Regions from separate parts of the Homo sapiens genome. Here region 2 is linked to region 1. The links come from fine-mapping of genetic effects on gene expression. Tissue or cell type: blood mononuclear cells. Region 1 holds a variant in brackets; the other region holds the start of a gene. All regions are shown on one strand. Distances are between the middles of the regions.

What was found. PIP is the estimated chance that this variant, and not a neighbour inherited with it, causes the effect.
Region 2: it holds the start of PTPRB, and the variant in region 1 is fine-mapped to the expression of PTPRB in blood mononuclear cells (TOPMed, PIP 0.96).

What each region holds. Positions count from the first base shown.
Region 1 is chr12:70,694,219-70,705,513 of GRCh38, forward strand. It overlaps PTPRR (protein tyrosine phosphatase receptor type R), which reads right to left. Exons shown (of 14, transcript NM_002849.4): 7 at 6,919-7,105; 8 at 4,047-4,131. Among named protein-coding and RNA genes, the nearest start is that of PTPRB, 62 kb to the left of the region's middle. The variant T/A (reference allele first, on the strand shown) is at 4,260.
Region 2 is chr12:70,631,107-70,642,401 of GRCh38, forward strand. PTPRB (protein tyrosine phosphatase receptor type B) reads right to left here and starts at 6,323. Exons shown (of 34, transcript NM_001109754.4): 1 at 6,235-6,323; 2 at 4,565-4,960. The coding sequence starts at 6,289. PTPRR (protein tyrosine phosphatase receptor type R) reads right to left here. Exons shown (of 14, transcript NM_002849.4): 14 at 6,973-8,171. The coding sequence ends at 8,078.

The DNA of each region.
Region 1 (11,295 bases):
AAGTAGGAAACATTATTAGATGTTAAAATTTTAAATATAAAATGATGACCTGAGTAAATGGCATTCTTTAAGTGTATCTATATTATCTTATATTTGTATCAACACACTGCATAAAAGAAATATGCATACAATTTATTATTATAGTGCAGCACTATTCACAATAACAAAGACATGGAAACAACCTAGATGCCCATCAACAGTGGATTGGATAAAGAAAATGTGGTACACATACACCATGGAACACCATGAAGTCATAAAAAAGAACAAAATCATGTCCTTTGCAGCAACATGGATGCAGCTGGAGGCCATTATTCTAAGCAAATTAACACAGGAACAGAAAACCAAATATTGCATGTTCTCACTTATAAGTGAGAGCTAAATTCTGGATACACATAGACATAAAGATGAAAACAATAGTAACTGGGACTCCAAAAAAAGGGAGGGAGGGAAAGGGAGAAGGGCTGAAAATCTTCCTATTGGGTACTATGTTCACTCTCTGGGTGTCATGCCGTCAGAAGAAGCCCAAACGGCAGCATCACACAATATACCCTTGTAACAAACCTGCACAGGTACCCCCTGAATCTAAAGTAAAAATAAAAAATTTAAACTTATTATTACAGTATTTTATTGTGTGCTAATAATTTTCTATTGATGTATGATTATTATTACAGTATTATATTTTATTGTCTGCTAATAATTTTCTATTGATGTATGATTGTTTTTTCCTACTACTTTTGTGATTTAGGATGTAGACATATTTTTATCACTAATATTTGTTTACACTGCAAAATAATTTGATATAAACTTGACTTTAGCATTTTAATCTCAGCCAAGATAACACTGTCATTAGAGAAATGACTATAATTTAATTTATAATTATAAATTGATTTATTCATAATTGATTCTTGCCTATCCATATATCTGTTGCAAGGCATTCTCAGAATTGTATAATGTTGCTATTATGTACAAGCTGTCAAGCTTTTAGAACTAAGAAGAGTTTAGTGTAGGTTAAAACTAAAAACAATCATAATGTTTAAATTCTTGATCATTTAATAATCATCATTTTATGTAATATTTCAAGTTTATCTCATATTACAGTCTAAAACCATAAAGAACATCTTTGTGTATTCATTCCAGGCTTTTTGGATGCTTTCACCCAATAGTGTGGCTTTTCTAAGCTATATTTCCTAAATTATATTTTGTGCAACAGAGGGTGGTGGGTGGGGCATTCAGCCTGCAGACATTTTCAACAGAAAATCCATCATTTGCAACATCAGCTGTCAGCACAGGTGCCCTGAATCCAGCGGTCCACCCAGTTCTGTGAACGGAAAAACTGACACAGGACTATGAAGCAGTTGTCTGATATCATCTGGGCAGGAAATGGAGAAGGCTGAACTTTGAACTAATGCTAATAATTTCCAAATCCTTCTAAAATTAGATGATGGTTTGGGTATATATAATTGTGATGGAGGTATATTCCCTTATTACTTATGTTTGGTATATTTTAGATAAAAATTTAACAGAGAGAGAGAGAGGGAGAGAGAAAACACAAATTCTAACACGCAGCACTTTCATCCCCTTTGGCCAAGTATAGTCATAAAATAACCTTCAATGGTGACTCTACCTTAGGTAAATAAATTTAACTATATAGAGCAGTTAAAAATATGTTATAGTTTAACAATGTATTTCCAATTCCACCAGAAGGGGAAGGCCAAAGATAGTATTAACAGTAATTGTTTAATTACTTTATTACATCACCATTACTATGAATATAAAGAATTTGGTGTCTTATGAATGAATTAATGAACTAAATTATGAAGATTGCTATTTCAATGTCAAAAGTTAAAAAGACTTTGTGGCTCCATCTTTCCTGAGCTTTGTCGTGAGATGTTTACTGATTTTGCCAAAACTCCAACTATATCTGTTTGTTTAGTCATAGAAAATATTACTTCCTCTCCATTTTTTTTTTTTTGCCTAATTTCTCTGGACAGAATTAATTACTCAGTCCTCTCTGAACTCCTACACTGCTTGGGCAGTATCTTTATTCTGGCCTATGCACTGAGCATAATTACCATTTATATGACTCTCGTTTCTAGTCTGTGACCTCCTTGATTTTATAGACTGTTTCTTATTTCTTACTGGTCCCTGGCATTCAGGTCATTGCTTGACGTTAATAAATTCCATGAAGCTCAATCTAGTTTCACATATAGTAGTGGTTCTCAAAGTGGATCCTGGTTTCATCTGGATTGGAATCACCTAGGTGTTTGCTAAAAGTAGTTTTCTGTGCTCAACAGCAGATCTACTTAAACAAAATCCCTGGGGTTGGGCACAGGACTAACAAGGACTCCAGGTCATTGTCATGCACAGCAACATTTTTTTGGTAATAGTTTTATTGAGAAATAATTCACATTCCATACAATCCCCCCATTTCATGTGCCATCACAGCATTTTTTTTTAAATTTTCACAGAGCTGTGCAACAATCACTGTAAATCAATTTTATAACATTCAATTAGCCCCAAAATAAATACAGGTCCTTTAGCAGTCATTCTCCATATCCCCTAATGCTAAGCAACCACTAAGATATTTTCTGTCTGTATAGATTTAGCTATCTGGACATTTCATATAAATGGACTACAAAATATGAGGTCTTTTGTGCCTGGCTTCTTTCACTTAGCATGATGTTTTCAAGGTTCATTCAAGGTTCATCAGTGCCTTGTTCCTTTTTATTGATTCTATTGTGTGACTATACTACATTTTATCTATCCATTTCTCAGCTGATGGTTGCCACTCTTTGGCTATTATGAATAATGCTGTTATAAATATTTTTGTATCATTTTTGTGTGAACACATTTCATTTCTTTTAGGTAATATTTACCTAGAAGTAGAGTGTCCAGGTCATATAGCAACTCAGTTTTATCTTTTAAGGAACTGCCAAACTGTTTTCCTAAGTAGCTGTAGCTGTACTTAAAACTGTAGTGTTAAGTTTCCAATTCTCTACATCCTTGCCAGCATTTTTTATTGTCTATTTTTAAAATTATAGTTATCCTCATGGATATAAAGTACTATCTTGCTGTAGTTTTGATTTCACTGATGGCTAGTGATGTTAAACATCTTTTAATATGCTTGTTGGTCATTTGTACATCTTCTAGGGAGAAATATCCATTGAAATCTTTTGTCCATTTTTTGGGTTGTTTGTGTTTCTATTATTGAGTTGTAAGATTTGCGTATTGTAGCTACATGTCCCTTATTAGATACATGATTTGCAAATATTTATTTTCTTCCATTCTATGAGTTGTCTTTTCACTTCCTTGAAGGTATCCTTTGAAGCACAAAATTTTTAGTATTAATGAAGTTCAATTTTTTTTTGCTGCTGTTTGTGCTTTTGTTGGCTTATCTAAGAAACCACTGACTAATTCAAGGTCATAAAGATTTACAGCTGTTTTCGTTTATGAGTTTTGTAGTTCTAGCTCTTATGTGTAGGTCTCTGGTCCATTTTGAGTCAATTTTTGTCTTCAACTTCATTTTTTTGCATGTGGATATCTGGTTGTTTCTGCTCCATTTGTTGAAAAGACTCTCTTTTTCCCATTGAATTGTTTGACCCTTGACAAAAATCAGGTAGCCATAATGTGTGGCACAACAAAATTTTAGAATATGTGTCTATTGGAATTGTGACCTGGACATTATAATAAGAGTAAAAAGGTAAAATCATTAACTTCAGATAGTTTTAATGATTATTAGTCTTGACATGTGTTTGTAATTCCAAATTTGATATGAAGTGGGTGTTGTAAGAATTGGAAATGCTGAGGTAAGGGTTAATGGGAAGACTTGTCTTGTGCTTTACAATGTAAATTATTATTATTATTTATACTTTAAGTTCTGGGATACATGTGCAGAATGTGCAGGTTTGTTACATAGGTATACATGTGCCATTGTGGTTTGCTTTTGCTGCATCCATCAACCCATCATCTACATTAGGTATTTCTCCTAATGGCTATCCCTCCCCTTGCCCCCCATACAATGCAAATTATAAAATCAAGAAGCTTACTTGGTAAAATGGTCTTATAGCGATTTTTAGTTCCATGACGCGGAATATCAATTTCTTTGGGATCCACAAAGTTCATTGGTATTTCCTGCAAAAATAAATAATATCAAATTAGTGTATCTAATACTGCCACAAAGAAAATCTTCACAGGGGGGCATCTGATCCAGAGTTCTATTGGACTTCAAAGCCACTTAAAAACAACAGATCTAGCACCTC[T/A]GGTGGACCAACACCCTTCCTTTCCTAAACATATCAGCTGCATCCGGACAAGCTGACTTCTAAGAAACAGCTCTGTGTGTTAGAAAATATTGCTTAATATGTAGTCAGTAAGGAGACATATAACACTGGTTAGATTTTAAGAATCCTGCTGTGACATAATTGCTAGAAAGATTAGACAGATGCTAAAAAGTGAATTTTTTTAAAAAACAATGTATTCAAATATATTCCAGTTTTTACATAACTTTAGTACCAAAAATTTTACTATAATAGATTATCTTTTCACACTAATAGTGACTCTTTTAGGATTATTAAAACCTCTTTCCCAAAATGGTAAATATAAAGGGCTTTTTTGTTAATTCAAGTGATGACATGACTTTTTTTTGAATTAAGAAATGGTTTATAACTGGACTGTTCCATTTTAAGTTATAAATGCACTGTTTTTAGTGAAGGGCATTCAAACACTGTTTCTCCCACTTAAGAACATTACTATTCTTATTTTATCAGAGTATACATTATATGCCTCAAGTGATTGGACAGGGAACAATAGGAAAAGAGTGGCTGTATGTAAGTGCATTAGATCTAAAAAGGTGTGTATCTGTAGCTAACCAGGACAAATAAAGCAACAAGCCAAAGTTTTCAAAAGGGTCCAAACAAACATTTGTTTAAAGATTTGATTATACAAAATAGTATGTTCTCTAACTTTGATAAGATTAACATGAACAAAATAACTTTTATGTTATTTAATGACTGATAAACATTAAATATTTGATCAAATAAGATATTTTTACTACTTAAACTTTCTCCAGTAGAAAATTTAACTTAACAGTCTAATATTGATTGAAATAGAAGAAATCATCTTTAAATTCATTCAAATTATCCTAGTTTTCAGTCATTCTGAAAATTTGAGAAAAGCTGGACTATACTATGAATTTGAGGCTTGTTCTACAGAGAGAAACAGCTATTCGTTTATTAATTAATTTATTTTTAGAGATGGGATCTCACTCTGTCACCTAGGTCAGTGTGCAGTGGCACAATCATAGCTCACTGTAACCTCAAACTCCTGGGCTCAAGGCATCCTCCCATCTCAGCTTCCTGAGTAGCTGGGATTACAAGCATGAGCCACAACACCTGGCCCCAAGTTACTTATTTTTAAAATAATTTTTCCTTTACCTGCATTATGCTAGCTATCCATGATATTTATCCCTATTCTCTGCTCCAACTAAATGTTTTAACCTGTTTGTTCCAAGTTATAAAAATAAGCAAAATTGTTGAATATTCAATGGAAAACACATGTTCATGTTTGGTAATTTCAAGCACGTCAGTGTCTTTGGGCAAAGCCACAAAGGTAATATCTTTATTCCTCCCCTTCTTCCTTCTCACCTTCTGTTTTCTGACACACACTGACAGTCTGTCATCTTCCAGCATTCTCTTTCTCCTGTGTACTCCTTCTGGCCTTCAATTTCCTTTCAGGAAAGTGGGCTATGGTAAGGTCTTATTTCATAAACAAAGAGCTGTCTGCAGTTCTAGAAAAAAAAAGCTCTAGGTGTGCCTTTGGCTAGCTGTGTGACCACTGACTTGTTCTTTCATTCCTACAGGTCTCATTTTCTTCACATGTAAAATATGATACACCACAGAGTCTGATTTTCATGTTTGTATTTTACTTTGGACACTTAATAATAGTTGATGGGGCTAATAGTAGATCCAACCCATTGCTGAATCTGTCACCATTAGGATGGCTGCAAATGCCTGAACTAATAATCAATTTATTGTACTCAACCAATACGGCTTAAGATGCAAGAGGTGATCAACAAAGTCAATATTCTCCTTGGGCAACAATTAGACCTAAGAAGGTTTAATCTTACTTCATGTTCTCTGAGTTGATGTATGTTATCATGCTTTAAGCTTTCACTAGCAACACTGGTATGTCTAAAACTGAATTCATCATTCTTTTTAGCCCACACTTGGTCTTCCTCCTGTGTTCCTTATTTCGTTAAAGGGCACCATATGCACCCTGTTGGCCAAACCAAAAACACGAATATCAATCCCTGACTTTTCCATTACTTTTGGCTGCCTCATTCAATTAATCCCACTTCTTGTAGATTCCTACAGATTCTTTCCATTTTCCCTTCTACTATATTAGTTTAGGCCACCAACGCAGTTCCACAGGATTAACACTAGAGCCTCTAAACTGCTCCCTTTTAGTGCCTACTCCACTGCAAATAGAATGATCTATCCAAAACATAAGATAAAGTCCAAGCTCCTAAACATATATTAAGGCTAGGGTTTCTTTTATACTTCTGAGGCTCAACTTTTGCCACTTCCCACCTTGATTTCAATGTTCCAGTTAAACTGAACAGTTTAATTCCCCAGACAGTGACAGCAAGGCTATTCTTTGTCCTGGAATGCCCCTTCTCTGCCCAGCTCCCTATACCACTTATTTGCCTCACCAATTCTTGCATATTCTGCCTTAATTTAGCTCTACATTCCAATTTTAATACTTATCAATAGTGGATGAGACTGAGTGAATCTAAAACCATTTCACTTTGCCATTTGTTTACTGTAGACTGCTTAAGTATAGGACAGTATCATTTCCATACGTCTCTAGTGCCCCATGTATCAAAATACCGACTGAAGAGTGAACAATAAATAGAAGGCTCACCATGAATTCACTTTGGAGTAAATGTGAACTTGCCACGACGTCCCTCAGCTGAGACCTTGTGAGAATTCGGCTGGCTGACTGCAGATACTCCATTGCTACCTTCTCCCGTGGTGTTGGTATAGACACAAAGGGTTCAATGTTCCCCAAGCTACTCATGTCCAATGTAAGAGATACGTTGGACCCTCTTCTACATTGGAGAAGAATGTTATGTTTAAACACCACATACTTATTTTGATTGCAAAAACTTGTCTTTCTGTACATGCACACAATTCAGTGAGAACTTTTACAGAAATAACAACCAACTATATTTTCTCTTTTAGTATCATGGTTGGCCATAGCAACTACCCATAGTTCCTTCACAGGAAAATAACAATTTTGTTGTTGGAAAGAACTCTAAATTGAGAAAATATGCTATAATTTATGAATGCATATACTTATTACAGAAATCATAGGTTGGCTAATAATATTAAGTGAAAAATTAAGTAAAAAAAAATTAGGAAAAGCTATATCTATATCTATATCTTCTGAGTGAATCCCTAAAAAATGGCTTCTGGGGCCAGATGAGGTAGTTCATGACTGCAATCCCAGCACTTTGGGAGGCTGAGGTGGGTGGATTGCCTGAGTTCAGGAGTTCAAGACCAACCTGGGCAACATGGTAAAACCCTGTCTCTACAAAACATACAAAAAGTAGCTGGATGTGGTGACCCACACTTGTAGTCTCAGCTACTAGGGAGGCTGAGGTGAGAGAATCATTTGAGCCCGGGGGGTTGAGGCTGCAGTGAGCCGTGATGGTGCCACTGTACTCCAGCCTGGGCAGCAGAGAGAGACCTTGGCTCTAAAATAAATAAATAAAACAATAGATAAAAATAAAAAAAGATGGCTTCTGTATCCTCTATTTATGTGTATATGTATGCACGCATATGTGAATTGACACACGAATTCATTTAATTTTGTGGTAAACTTATAAGGGGCCATAGAAATCACAGACCCTTAAAATGAGTTACAATTTATCTTCCTCTCATAATTCCCCTTTTCCCGCTGGGGGGCAAGGGGATGCTCTTACAACTTACACAGACCCTGAGTCCTGAGTAGGAAGTGAGGATGCCTTTTACAAGTAATATTAGCTGTGTGGACCAAGGGGTAACTATGAAATAGCATGTGAGAGACTGAGGATTGAAGTCAGAGATGGTGTTTACAAAAACTGTTACATTTAAAGGGGCCGTAGGTGTGTGTCAGATCAAATATAGTGCCAAGCAGTTGGCGGCTCAAGGAAGTAGAGAGCAGGGAAAAACAGGCCAAAATATGTGAGAGTAAAGACAGTAAGAGTAGATGCTAGGCCCAGCAAATTATTCCCTCTGGTATTTTAATACTTACTCTGGAATGCGACATTAAGAAATATTACAGTGGCTTGAGCTTAATTTCAAACAGTGGAAAATTATTGGAATATACAACAACAACAACAAAATCCATTAACGAAAATCTATCAGTTTTCTTCTCTGATGAATCTGCCTCTGGTTGCATTTTTGTTGTCATTCTATAATTTGATATGTAATGTCATTTTTGTTAATTTCTAAATGGTTTGTAATTGAGATTTTAATTTCTACTTTAATTTGATGGATATCTGTAAGTTTAGACATTTATTTTCCTTATAATTTCTAGTTATAGTTGTGGAAATTAGAGAATGGCTGGCCTTTTAATGGTTGAAACTACTTGATTTTTTTTCGAGATAAACACTACATCATTTTCTAAATATTTCACAGATGTTTTGCTGGCATCTAGTTTGATTATCTGTATATGTTCATAAGTATCTATCTGCACATATATACATATATATCACCTTATTTATTATACCATTATTTTATTGAAGATATTACTTTATTCCAACCTATTCTTTCCTTCCTTTTTTTTTTTCTACTGGATTTGTCAAAGCCTGAGATATGTATGTGAGTCTTCCACAATAATTATGCTTGTTATTTTTCCTTCTAACAGTTTTTACCTTGTACATTGCAGCCATTGTGTTATTTGAAGGGATTTAGTCATATCTTCACTATAAATGTTACCAATATTACTTTCTTTCCTGTTAATTTTATATTTGCCCTCACATCTGGCTTTAAAAAATGAATATTGATATGCCTATATGTTTTGGGGGGTATGTTTCTGAAAACTTTTTCTCATCCTATTATTCTTCTTAACTCTTTTGGATCACTGGGTTAGGGATTAGGGAATAGCATTTATTCTAGATGCTCATAAAATCCTGCCTACCTAATAGAGGGATATTTTTCCCACTCCACTTTTTCTTATTTGGTTTTTGGTGGTGGTTGATAGGGTTCCTGTGCTTCTGAGTAGGAGGCAAATAGTTGAAGAAGAGCAAAGAATGGTTCTACTCATGGACCAAGAATTTAATCTATTTTTAGTGGGAAAGTAGTTTTTAAAGTTTTTCAGTTCAGTTCTGGACTTCAAATTGATAGAAAATCCTTACGGATTCTGATAATAGTTTGCCGATTGGTCTTAATATTTAGGGCATTTGTGAGAATTCAGCTTTTGCAAGCTTTATAGATATTTTAGTATGAAGGTGAGAGAGGCCGCTTAAGGGATGGCTAGTCCTATGCCCTTTAAAATCACCATGCCATTCAGTCAAATTTTCAGCCTCAAGAGACAAAATTGTCTGCCCTCTGTCAATGGAGTGATGCTTGTGCTATAGATGGTGAGATCTCTTCCATCTGGAGTGGTCAGAGCAGATTCATGAGGTAGAAGTCATTTAAGTTGGGCTTTGAAAGCAAACGTTTAATAGGTGAGTTTTTGGTCTAGAGTTAAAGAATCTGGTAGGAAAAAAAGTGTAGGAGAATAAATTAATACAACTTTGAAGAACAGCATAGAAGCAGTTTGAGCTAGAGTTCTCTTGTATAAAAATGTATTTTGAAATTGGGGAGCAGGCTTATGTAAGAGAGATGAGAGAGAAGCAACAGTCATAGACACTATAAGACTATAAAAAGCCCAAAAATAGTCCAGGGATGTTGGCTGACATCTGTAATCCCAGCACTTTGGGAGACTGAGGCAGGAGGATCACTTGAGGCCAGGAGTTTGAGACTGGCTTGGGCAACATAGCAAGACCCTGTCTCTACAAAAAATAAAATAGCTAAGTGTTGTGGTGCTTGCCTGTAGTCTCAGCTATTCGGGAGGATGAGGCCGGAAGATTGCTTGAGCCCAGGAGTTCGAGGCTGCAGTGAGGTAAGATTGCACCACTGTCGTACTCCAGGTTGGGTGACAGAGTGAGACCCCATGTCAAAAATAAATAAATAAATAAATACATAAATAACGAAAAAAAAAGCCAGATAAAAGAGGATCCAGAACATCATCAGGGTGTATTAATTTCTGTTTTGACTTCCCACAGTATACGCTGCCTAAACCTGGGAGATTAGAAGCCTTTGACATCCCGTGTCTAAGGTCTATTTGATTTAATGAGTTAATTTTCTAAGGATTCTGTGGTAAGCAGAGAGCTGTGGAAGCATTTTCATGCTAACTGACTTAAATAATAACCATTTATATATTACAGTCAGAAAGACATTTCAAAAACAAGATAAACATATAAACTTATGGGAAAATTCTAATTAAGACGTATAAAAAAATTGACAGAATTTAGAAAAAAAATCAACATAAATAATAGGAGAACTATACCTTTAATAAAAAAGGAATGTGGAAAGCAAGAAAACGAACTCTACTGAAAGCTTTACTTTTATTTTGTCTTGGAACTGTGGGCAAACTGTTTAGCCTTTTTAATGCCTCATGATTGCTGTTGGACAAAAGGGAACATAATAAAAAGCTTTATCAAGCTCCTGCTGCAGCACCAATTATTATTTATGCCAAAAAATAAATAAGAGGGAGGAAATTCAAAAGATACCAATGCAAACAATTGAAGGAAAAAGCAAATTCTTAGGGAAAGGTAAAAGGAATGCAATAAACAGCATGCTAATTATAATTAACTAAAAAGGAAAATATGTATAAATATTATGGGCCAGGGCGACACATCCATTTCAGCAAGAGAATATAAACAACTTTGGGTCAAAATTGTTCAATTCTAATGACATCAGTTTCTAATGACTTAGAGGTGGGAAGAAAACGTAGCTAAAAATACAGTAACATTACAACTGAGTGTTGGAATAACTCAGAAACCAGGCATTTATTTTCCCGGTAGTTGGGGACCATAATGCTAGATTTTAGAAGCTGAATTTAGGAAGAAAGGGCTAAAATTTCTAGTATCATGTCTACGGGCTCTAATTCTCAGACATGCTACTTTTTTTGCAGTACTTTGGTCACTGAGAACAGTGAGACTTCAAGCAGTATACCTCATTTAGCAACCAATAAAGAATGGAAATGGAA
Region 2 (11,295 bases), 63 kb before region 1:
GCCCACATAGCCAAGACAATCCTAAGCAAAAAGAACAAAGCTGGAGGCATCACACTACCTGACTTCAAACCATACTACAAGGCTACAGTAACCAAAACAGCATGGTACTGGTACCAAAACAGAGATATAGACCAATGGAACCGAACAGAGCCCTCAGAAATAATACCGCACATCTACAACCATCTGATCTTTGACAAACCTGACAAAAACAAGCAATGGGGAAAGGATTCCCTATTTAATAAATGGAGCTGGGAAAACTGGCTAGCCATATGTAGAAAGCTGAAACTGGATCCCTTCCTTACACCTTATACAAAAATCAATTCAAGATGGATTAAAGACTTAAATGTTAGACCTAAAACCATAAAAACCCTAGAAGAAAACCTAGGCAATACCATTCAGGACATAGGCATGGGCAAACACCTCATGACTAAAACACCAAAAGCAATGGCAACAAAAGCCAAAATAGACAAATGGGATCTAATTAAACTAAAGAGCTTCTGCACAGCAGAAGAAACTACCATCAGAGTGAACAGGCAACCTACAGAATGGGAGAAAATTTTTGCAATCTACCCATATGACAAAGGGCTAATATCCAGAATCTACAAAGAACTTAAACAAATTTACAAGAAAAAAACAAACAACCCCATCAAAAAGTGGGCAAAGGATATGAACAGACACTTCTAAAAAGAAGACATTTATGCAGCCAACAGACACATGAAAAAATGCTTATCATCACTGGTCATCAGAGAAATGCAAATCAAAACCACAATGAGATACCATCTCTTGCCAGTTAGAATGGCAATCATTAAAAAGTCAGGAAACAACAGATGCTGGAGAGGATGTGGAGAAATTGGAACACTTACACTGTTGGTAGGAGTGTAAACTAGTTCAACCACTGTGGAAGACAGTGTGGTGATTCTTCAAGGATCTAGAACTAGAAATACCATTTGACCCAGTGATTGCATTACTGGGTATATACTCAAAGGATTATAAATCAAGCTACTATAAAGACACATGCACGTGTATATTTATTGTGGCACTATTCACAATAGCAAAGACTTGGAACCAACCCAAATGTCCATCAATGGTAGACTAGATTAAGAAAATGTGGCACATATACACCATGGAATACTATTGCAGCCATAAAAAATGATGAGTTCATGTCATTTGCAGGGACATGGATGAAGCTGGAAACCATCATTCTCAGCAAACTATCACAAGGACAGAAAACCAAACACCGCGTGTACCACTCATAGGTGGAAATTGAACAACGAGAACACTTGGACACAGGGCAGGAGACATCACACACTGGGTCCTGTCGGGGGGTGGGGGACTGGGGGAAGGATAGCACTGGGAGAAATGCCTAGTGTAAATGACGAGTTGATGAGTGCAGCAAACCAACATGGCACACGTATACCTATGTAACAAACCTGCACATTGTGCACATGCACCCTAGAACTTAAAGTATAATTAAAAAAAAAAAAGGAATGAGTGCTTAATGTGACATACTGGCAAGGACATATATTGGAAAGGAAAGTACTTTCTTCTCTCTACATTCTATTGTAATTACCTATTTATTTACTTATCTGATTTCCCCATTACTTTAAGGAATAAGATGTATTTAATGATTTGCAACCTTGGCTGCACATCAGAATCACCTAGGAAGTACTTTAAAAATACAATACCTCATTTAGTCAGCTTAGAGGATAAAGCTCAGGTTTTATACTCTAGTATTAGTTAAAAGCTGCCATGTGAGTCTAATATGCAGCTTGGGTCAAAAATCACTTGTGGAGGGCACCTTAGTACTAGCACAGGGTACCTGAGTGCTAGCACAAGCTCTGGCACATAGTAGGTGTTAAATAAATATTACCTGGAAACTTGAATACAATCATTAATGTGTCTTTTATGAAACAAATATGAAACATGTGGCTTAGATTTTTACCTTCATAGGTCTGCTTTCTTTCATGGAAGAACACACAAAAAAATTCACATCCCATAGATGAACAACACATGTATTTGTGCTGCTGTAGATTATAATACTTAGTTACCAACTTAAACAATGATTTGAAATCACTCATTGCAAACATATGAATGCATTTCGGTTAATTTTTCACAGTAGCTACTCTAGCAAGTCAGTGAGCTCTCATGATATAGGTCTACAAGTATTATTCTTAAACTTTTATCAGGGCTGGGCATGGTGATTCATGCCTGTAATCCCAGTACTTTGGGAGGCTGAGGTGGGAGGATCACTTGAGCCCAGGAGTTGGAGGCTACATTGAGCTATGATCACACCATGGCTCTCCTGCCTGGGCAACAGAGCAAGACTTTGTTTCTAAAAACAAAAACCAAAGAAAAAACAAAAACAAAAAGAAAAAACCCCACAATGGCATATTTAAGATGGAGCAGAAAAATATATCTGTTAGCTTATAATTGTGTTAAAGCAAAAGTATGTGTTATACTTATGTGTACTCAAATATAAGGGTGTTTTTGTACCACAATTGTGCAAATTTTAACTTCTGCTTTTTCTAGAAATTAATTTCTTTCCCCAACACATATTATCAGGCATTTTTTGAATATAGCATTGTTCAGTGGTTAATTGCAAATGGCTTATTCTAGTTACCTTATTTTCGAAGTCTATTACTAGACATATTTGTATGAGGGTCATAGGAGGTAGTTTTTCTATGAATTATCTTTTATCTTGAATAACTCACCACTGAGTCCATATCTACTTTTTTTTAAAGTTCCAACTAAGTAATCTTATGTTAAATAAGGTTTGATTGGGGTTTGGGGATGAATCTCACTTCTTGTGTAAAACAGTAAAAATGGAACAGTTATAATGTTTCTATATTATTTAGGAGAGGCCTTGATAGATGAACCACAGGAAAGGTATTGTACAAATTGGTGCTATATGCTGAATATTTTCTGATAAAGTTGAATTTTTGAGTAGGTTTTTTTCTCATAGGCAGAAATGATATAAGAACAGAAACTATAACTCTCAACTTTTATTGTAGCAAAGCATACCACTTATTGTAGAAAAGCATAACACATTCAAATGGCATCTAGTTAAATGCTTGTTTTAACTTACAGAATGAATGAGTGAGAAAAAATTGTCCAAAGATTACCATGGTGGAAAGACTAATATAAGCCTCACAAATCAACACCTAAGGAAAAGACTTAACAATACAGTGGATGCTGATCTCCATATTGGATTATGGATCAAAATTTTCTGGTGATTAATAAATATCAAGTATTATGCACAAATCCAGATTTCCTGAAACAGAATCTTGGAGGTGGTTGTAGAGGAAAAAATGGTGGGAAAGAATCCTGGGAATGTGTATTTTTTTTTAAATTTTTATTTTTAGTTTTGGGGTACATGTGCAGGGTGTGCAGATTTGTTACATAGGTAAACGTGTGCCGTGGTGCTTTGTTGCACCTATCAACCCATCACCTAGGAATTAAGCCCAGGATGCATTAGCTACGGGAATGTGTATTTTTAGTAAGCCCTCCCTTTTCTACCCCAGGTGATTCTTAGGCAAGCCATGGGGCAAGTCTGTGGTCAAGCATTTGGGAACCTCTGGTATAGTAAAATGTACACTGAACAAAGAGTCAAAAAACTTAGGCTCTAATCATAGATCTGCTGCTAATTTATCTGGGACAATTTACTTAACCCTGAAAAATTTGTCTTCTTAGTGAGGCGCTTCGTTTCTTGATAACTTTTCCCATGCTTTGTAAGGTTCATTGGTGCCTAATATATTGTGATTCATCAGTTTTATCTTTCATGACTTTCTAAAGCAAACCTCTAATAGAAGAGTAAATACACAATTGCATGATTAACTTCAAGAGAAGATTAAACTGCCTATATATTCCACAAGCAAAAATTCCTAGCTCAGGACTGAACTGTGTCCTGCACCAGGAGCTTGCACATGTGTATAACATATTTTCTACATGTGTCCATTATCTGGGTTATATCCATTAATGGTCAATAAATTAGAAAAATCTGTGGCTGCCCATTGATTCTTAACATTTCAAAAGTGTGTTACCTCCAAAAGATATCTACCCCTAAACAGCAATACAAGAGATTTGCAAAAACACAACTATCTTCCAGTCTTATCAAGCACCATTCTGATGTTCTAATAATTTATTATAATTAGCAAATAGAAGTGTCTGTCAATAAAATCTAATAATTTTCCGATTACTGACTTTAGTCATTACATATATAGGCTGTGTATATGCCTACATCCATATTCCTACATCTAACAGTGCTTAACTGGCAGAGAAGAGAGGCTCATGAAATAGTTGTTGAATTAATAAAAGAAGCAAGACAAGAAGGGAAGGAAGAAAAAGCAATAGAAAAAGTTGGGCTTATTTTAATGAGGGTCATGAAGTTTTCCATCATTGGGCACGTCACCATCCACCTCCATTAGCTTATGAATCTTCCATAGGAAATATGTTGGGGCATGTGGACTTCCCTTAAATGTAAAACAAACAAACAAACAAACAAACAAAACCCCCAAGATATTTAGTAGAAAGACTTTCAGGATTTGCTCTGAAAGGAATAGCTCACCTTTTTGTAAACAGAGGCTTTCATTGACCAGTTTTCCCTCCTTGTTGACATCTATTTTCATCCAGCTATGGAGGTATTTCCTGGCCTTCTTGACCACTACTCTGGAGCCTTGTTTCTGGAGAAAGAGAGAGGCATTTTCCACCTCAAGGAAGCCTTCCTGATCATAGCAGGTCCATCGGGGTGCCTGGGAACAGCGGTCCAAGATGGCTGAGCGGGAGGGGCCGCGGGAAGAGTTGGAGATGGCCAAGCACAGTGCAGATTTAACATGAAGGAGCTTTTCATCCTCAGTCCACATCCACTGCTGGTTCTGGATGGTCCTGTTGCATGAGCCCACGACCACTTTCTCATTTTTGAAAAGACACTGTTGTTTCTGGACATGGACAATCTGAAACCCTTCTGGAAGATGAAAAGCTCATAAAGCACTATGTAGCAAATTATGAGGCCCATTAGAAAACGGAAGAACCCACCCACAAATGAGCTAAATAAAATCACTAGTTTTACTTATATTTTGTTATTTCTATCATTTCAAGTGAACATTCTCATATTTAACACATGTGATTTAAAATTCCAAAGCTGACGATATAAAATGTCAATATGTTACACTTAACTCCCCATCTTTTTTTTTTTTTTAATTTTCACATGCTTTAGGGGAAAAAAGCACACCTCTTATTGGAAAATGAAAGGAAGCTTGGAAAGAAACAAAACCATCCAAAGTATATAGTATATTTTAGCCCAATTAGTTAGATATGCTGAAGTTATGAAATGCTCAGCTCCCTTTTTAACCATTTGACATATTCGATATAAGCTTCCTCCCTTACCTTAAAAAAGCACCCCCTTTTCCAGTCTTTAAATTCACATTGCAGTATTTATATACAAATTTCATAGTTTGAATAACAATTTTTTAAAATTGCATACATTTATCAAAAAATAAAACAAATTTTCCCACTTCTCCAAGCACAACCTCCTAGCTAATTGCAGCCAATGAAAGTATTGATTATCACAAACTAAATTTCCTTTAGTCGTGGAGAGGAGCATTTCTCTATTTTATGACAATATCTACAGTTTTCTCTCAAATACGAATAGATTTTCTAAAAATCATCATGTGCCAGTGTAAGAAAATTAAACATCAAATTGCTAAACATCAGTATTAAAGAGCAAGATACTCTGGCTCAGAAACCATTTTCAATGAGGTTTTACTTAAATTGCCCAGCTCGCTCATGAAAATGTTCAGCCCTCCCAAATGACAACTTCCAAATAAAACACACTACATTTCCTCACCCCCTTTAATCATATTCCTTCAATTTTCTTTCTTCAACACAAAAGAAAATAAAACTATAACCGGGTCGGAAAAAGGCTTGGGGAAAGCCACAGACTGTTATATAATAATACAAACTTTTCCTCGGGGTTCTTTACGCTCTGCTCTAAATGTATCATTTCAGGGGCTGCCTGAAGCATTTGGAGGATGAGAGGAGAGCATTTATTTTCTTTTGGAGAGAAATCTCAACAGTATGGGCATAGCTGGCTCCTTTTATTCCTGCTTTTCATCGTCTTTGGCTAAACTGCCATGGAGACCTGGCCCCTTCTACCTTATTTCAGACACTTCAAAGACCAGGGACTCCTTGGCTAGATCTTGAAGAAATGCCTCAGGACACTGAGGCAGACCCACTCACCTGAGTTCCTGAAGATCAAGCAGGTAAGAATCACCATGTAAAATTCAGCCTCCATTTTCCACTTAGCAACTGTTCATGCTTCGCTTGGGGAAAAAAAAAATTCTCCCAGATAAGAGAAGCAAAGACTAGGAAGGAAATGTGCCTTCATGGTGGGGGGAAAAGTCAGTGACGAGCACTTCCTCCTATTGAATTGTTTGGGGAAGTTTTACACCAGTGTCCTTTTGTCTGTTTCCTTAGAAAGAAGGGATTATGATTACCTCTTTTTTTTAATGTAGAAAATATTCCAGCCTTCAAGAGCAGAGTAAATCTCGTTAAGACCTCACCTACCTTTCCTTTGGCATGTGACTGCTTCTTAACCTCAAGAAGAAAGAAAGGAATTGAAATCTCAGATAATTGAATGTTCCTGAAACATTACATCTCTTCAGGTGATGTGATTCTGCTGAATAAACATAAGCCATGTAATTGATGAGGGTCTATGACAAGTGATATAAAGACATAAACATGTACTGTTTGTATAATGATATGCTGCGAGTCTATTGAGGAAAACCACATAATGATGGCACTTCTAGATCATTATCTCCCAAGTGATGACAATATTACATTTTGAGATCGTCATCTTCACTGGGGAGATGCAGACACTAAAATTAAACCCATCACATTATCTACTTTGGTCTTCCCCAAACAGAGGATGGCGTCTTTCCAAATAGAAAAAAAAAAAAGAATATGCTTTACTCAGTATTTAGTATTAAGAGTTTATTGGCAGTATGAAACAAAGTCAACATTGCTGCATTAAAAATTCATATATGAGCAGAACAGCTAGTGTTTGCTGAGGGTAGTTATTTTAATTTTTTTTGTCTCTTGAAGATTGAAAGCTTTCAGAAATGTAAGGACATACATGGAAATGTCCTTATAAGGAGCCTCGAAAATGGGACAGATTATATCATTCCTGAAGGCATATACCTTTTGTTGAGAGAGAGATTCCAGGTAGATAGCATATTCAAAAATCCCTTCTTAGCAAAAGAGAGACAAGTAGTTAAAACTCTTGATACTTCAGAGTTGCTACAAATTTGTTTTTCCCTTTTAAAGTAAAATGACTCACGATGTGGAAATACAGTGGATAGAGTTCTGGAGCAGAAGCCACCTTTATGCCCAATAATAGAGAGTAAATACATATATACCCAATGACAATCATTGTGCTCTGTAATTGTTTGATAGGAGGGACTATAAATACACATTTAATAGGTAATATTATCAAGACACATTTCCATATAAAATAGTTACTGTTTTTGATTTTTGTTTTTCAAAAACAAAGACTTCTCTGTTAAAAATCCATTATCAATCACTTGCAACTTTAGCAGCAAGATTCTGGTAACTGAGAAAGGTAATAGCACTTCAAAACAGGAACAGTTTAACAGCTGACAGTCCATTCACAAGACAGATTTTGCAAACATTAAAGCATCTAACACATAATACGAATGTCTTCAGCAGCTCATCCAGTCATCACCTGATGACATTTATTACTGAATATTACATACATACATTCTGTGTGGCAGATAGAGTCAGTACAGACAAAACAAAATCTGCCTTAGGCTGTGTGATAAACCTATCATACCTCCATCATCAAAAAACCTTCAGAATAATTTGGGGGATGCTTACAAATGCATTCATATACACAAGGAGCTGGAAATCTTAAATATGTTGCCCAGTCTTCCACAATCCATGCCATACATGGGCTTCAGAGCTTCTCCTTCCTTCCATTGCAGGAAGCTCCTTCTAGAAGCCTTGGGTGGGTAATTTGATTAATCACCCCAAGAGATTGATGGTCTGACAAGTCTTCAATGACTCACTGGACAGTCTCTGCTGAAAGTCTGCTCTCATACAGGCACAGAGCATGGTGCACAAATTCATACTGCTCACTGGTTTGCACCATTCCACCTCTGCAAGGAAGAAATCATAAAATAACTGATTTTGCTAAAATCTTGCAATTTCAAGTAACACAGAGATTTCATCCAAGCTAGGGTATTATGCCAAAGACACATAGAACAGTCGACCTAGTGGTTCTTTTGTTATCCCTCTTACCTGTGTCCAAATGTCTCAACTATCAAAGTTAACATGGTAATGTATATAAAGGGCTTAACACAGTTCCCAGCACACACTAGGCACGTGATTAATTTTTACCTGTGTAACATTACTGGGGAGGTGGTACAGCCTAATGATCAAGTACTTGGATTTGGCATCAGCCAAGGTGAGTTCAAATCCCTCCTCTGCCAATTCTTAGCTGTATGCATCTTGGACAAATTCCTCGAAACCCCTTGCACTTTAGTTTCTTCCTCTGTTAAAGCAGGATAGTAACAGTAACTACTGCTGTGAAGGTTAAATAAATTCATTGTAGCTGGTATATTTGTATTACTTCTCAGGTGCCTCATGATTCATCTCTTGTTAAAATGGTTTATACATTTGGCTTAAAATTGATTGACGGAGACAAACCAAACAAAACTCATCTGCAAAATGTTGCTTTCTACAAGTAAAATGAAGTCTACCTTGGAATGGTTTATTTGAATATGTTGTACAGAAGCAACCTTAGCCTTTTGGTGTACGGGGTGTCTAAACACAATAGTGGGTGGGTCCTTAAATGAGTTGGAAAAAGGGAATTGGCTCTGCTGTGACATTTTCCTCTTGGTTATCACCATTATCATCACTAGCTGCCCAGCACCCTCCTTGTCAATGGATTCATAGAAAGCACTTGCCTTCATGAGAAATAACGGTGCTTCTCATTATGTTTTTATATACATAATACCTATATCACATTTTCCCCCTTCATAATTATGATCCTTTTTTAATTTTAGTTTTTGAGAAAACGTCTCCTTAATTGCTTAGGCTGTTGTGCAGTGGCATGATCACAGCTCAGTGCAGCCTCAACTTCCTGGGATCAAGCAATTCTCCCACCTCAGCCTCTGGTGTAGCTGGGACCACAGGCACCACCACACCTGGACAATTTTTAAATTTTTTTTTTCTTGTAGAGACAAGGCCTCACTATGTTGCCCAGGCTGGTCTCCTGGACTCAAGTGATCCTCTTGTCTTGGGCTCCCAAAGTGATGGAATCACAGGCTTGAACGACGGTGTCCAGTCCTATAATTATGATTTTTTAGCTTGACAAAGTTACCAGACATTAATATGTTACTATTCCTGCTCACTGTATAAAAGCATCACTATCGGTAACTATTTAAAGTCTTGTAAATTCTCTGTAACTCTGCAATCATGCAACTGATCTTATCTTTTAGTTTAACTCTATGTTTTAACCAGATTTTTCCAAGTGGTTGTTAGTATCATTCAAAATAACTTTCAGATTATTTAGGCACTTCAACTTAAAAACAAGATATCTTGTCTCACTGTAACAAGACTTCTAGTTAATGGTAATAATAAAAACTGGGCTTCTATGTTTATTTGTCAATCTATGTCAATATTAGAGCAGTAAAACTTCCTTGTTTTAAACTAAACAGTGATTCCCCAGGAAAATTAACATGATGTCAAAATGATGTAATTGGCAAAAAATAAAGAGGTAAATTCACAGTTTTTGGTGACAGCAACTTATTGACAGAAGTATTTAATTGGTCTTCCTCCCCTAGAGCTGTACATTTTGTTGCATTGAAGGCAACCTTCTGGGCTAAGTATTCCTTGGTCAGAAGTGAACAACAGAAATGGCCAGCTGAGAATGTGGTAATGGTTTATCTTCTTAGCTGTGTGATGACATCTGGGCTCATCTAAAATCATAGCAGGTGTTCCGAAGATGCTGGCTTGAACTGTGAAGCTTGGGAGACACCACCACAGTAAATATTAGGGTAGCTCCAGGGAGCTGAGAGGTGCCTCCCTTCCTCTGGCATTTGCACAGCTCAGGGCACCATTACTCCCTCTTGAGCTGCAGACAGTATGTGGAAGCTTCTATGTGCTCCACCTCTTAGGCTCTGGTCTGTCAGCTTCCTCTCACCATTTACCTCACTTTGAGGCAAGATTTTCCCCTTCTTGTATGTTCTGGTCAGCACTGGTATTTACATGTCCAACTGGTGAATGAATGGAGACACAGTTTAGAATTTAATAACTGTTTCACCCTAAGTGGGTCAGTGGTGTAATTTAATGGTTGGAGTATATTTACTATGACATTCTGTTCACTAAATCAAGGTTGTTTTAGCCAGTGAAAGTGGGGAAGATGGAGAAGCATACTCATTAATTGTGGGCTGGCAAAATTCTTGCAGGTCTGAAGGCTTCAGGAAAGTATATGAAAAGTTCTCTTACCTCCCACTTAATTTGGAAAATAAAAATGAAAAAAACTGGCATCAGAGGAATTCTTAGAGATCATCCATTCTAGTCACTGACAATATAGCTTTTTTAGAAATCTTGCAATTTTAGAGGCAGCCTTTTCCAAGGTTGGCAGGAAAACTTTTAAGACATCAACATGAATCTGTCCTTTCTAACTTTCACCGCATTGGTCCAACTGAAATAACCCAAAAGACGTCTTAAGGCTCCCCTGTAGTCACACAACAGCTCTCCAAAGGCTGGAAAACAGCCATCAAAGTCCTATAATCTTTTCTTCTTTAGACTAAACATCCTGTGGTCACTCAATATTTCTGTACAGCCTGGTTTTTCTGTCACTCACCACTCTAGTCTCCCTCTTCTACAGGCTATTTTATCAAATATGACCTTCTTAGAGAGTTGTGTCTCCTTCTGATGAGATCTATGAAGCAGGCTTATTTTCTCTTCCAGCTGCACGTTAGAGACCAATAGATCTGTGTTTGCAGGTGCATCAGGTGGTGAGGTCCCCCAGTGCCTACATGGTGCCTGGTTCTCGGTAGTATTTTAAGATACTAACTGACGGTGTAGATTAAATAAAAAGTCAACAAGACTTTTTTTGAATGTGGACATTATAGCTTTCTCCCATCCTGTAATTATGCTACTGGATTTTTGAAACTAAATGCAAGGCTTTCTATTTATTCTTGTTAATTTCAACTTGTTAGTTTCAGCACAATGCTCTTGTTTACTGGATCACTATCTATCGTCAATATATTA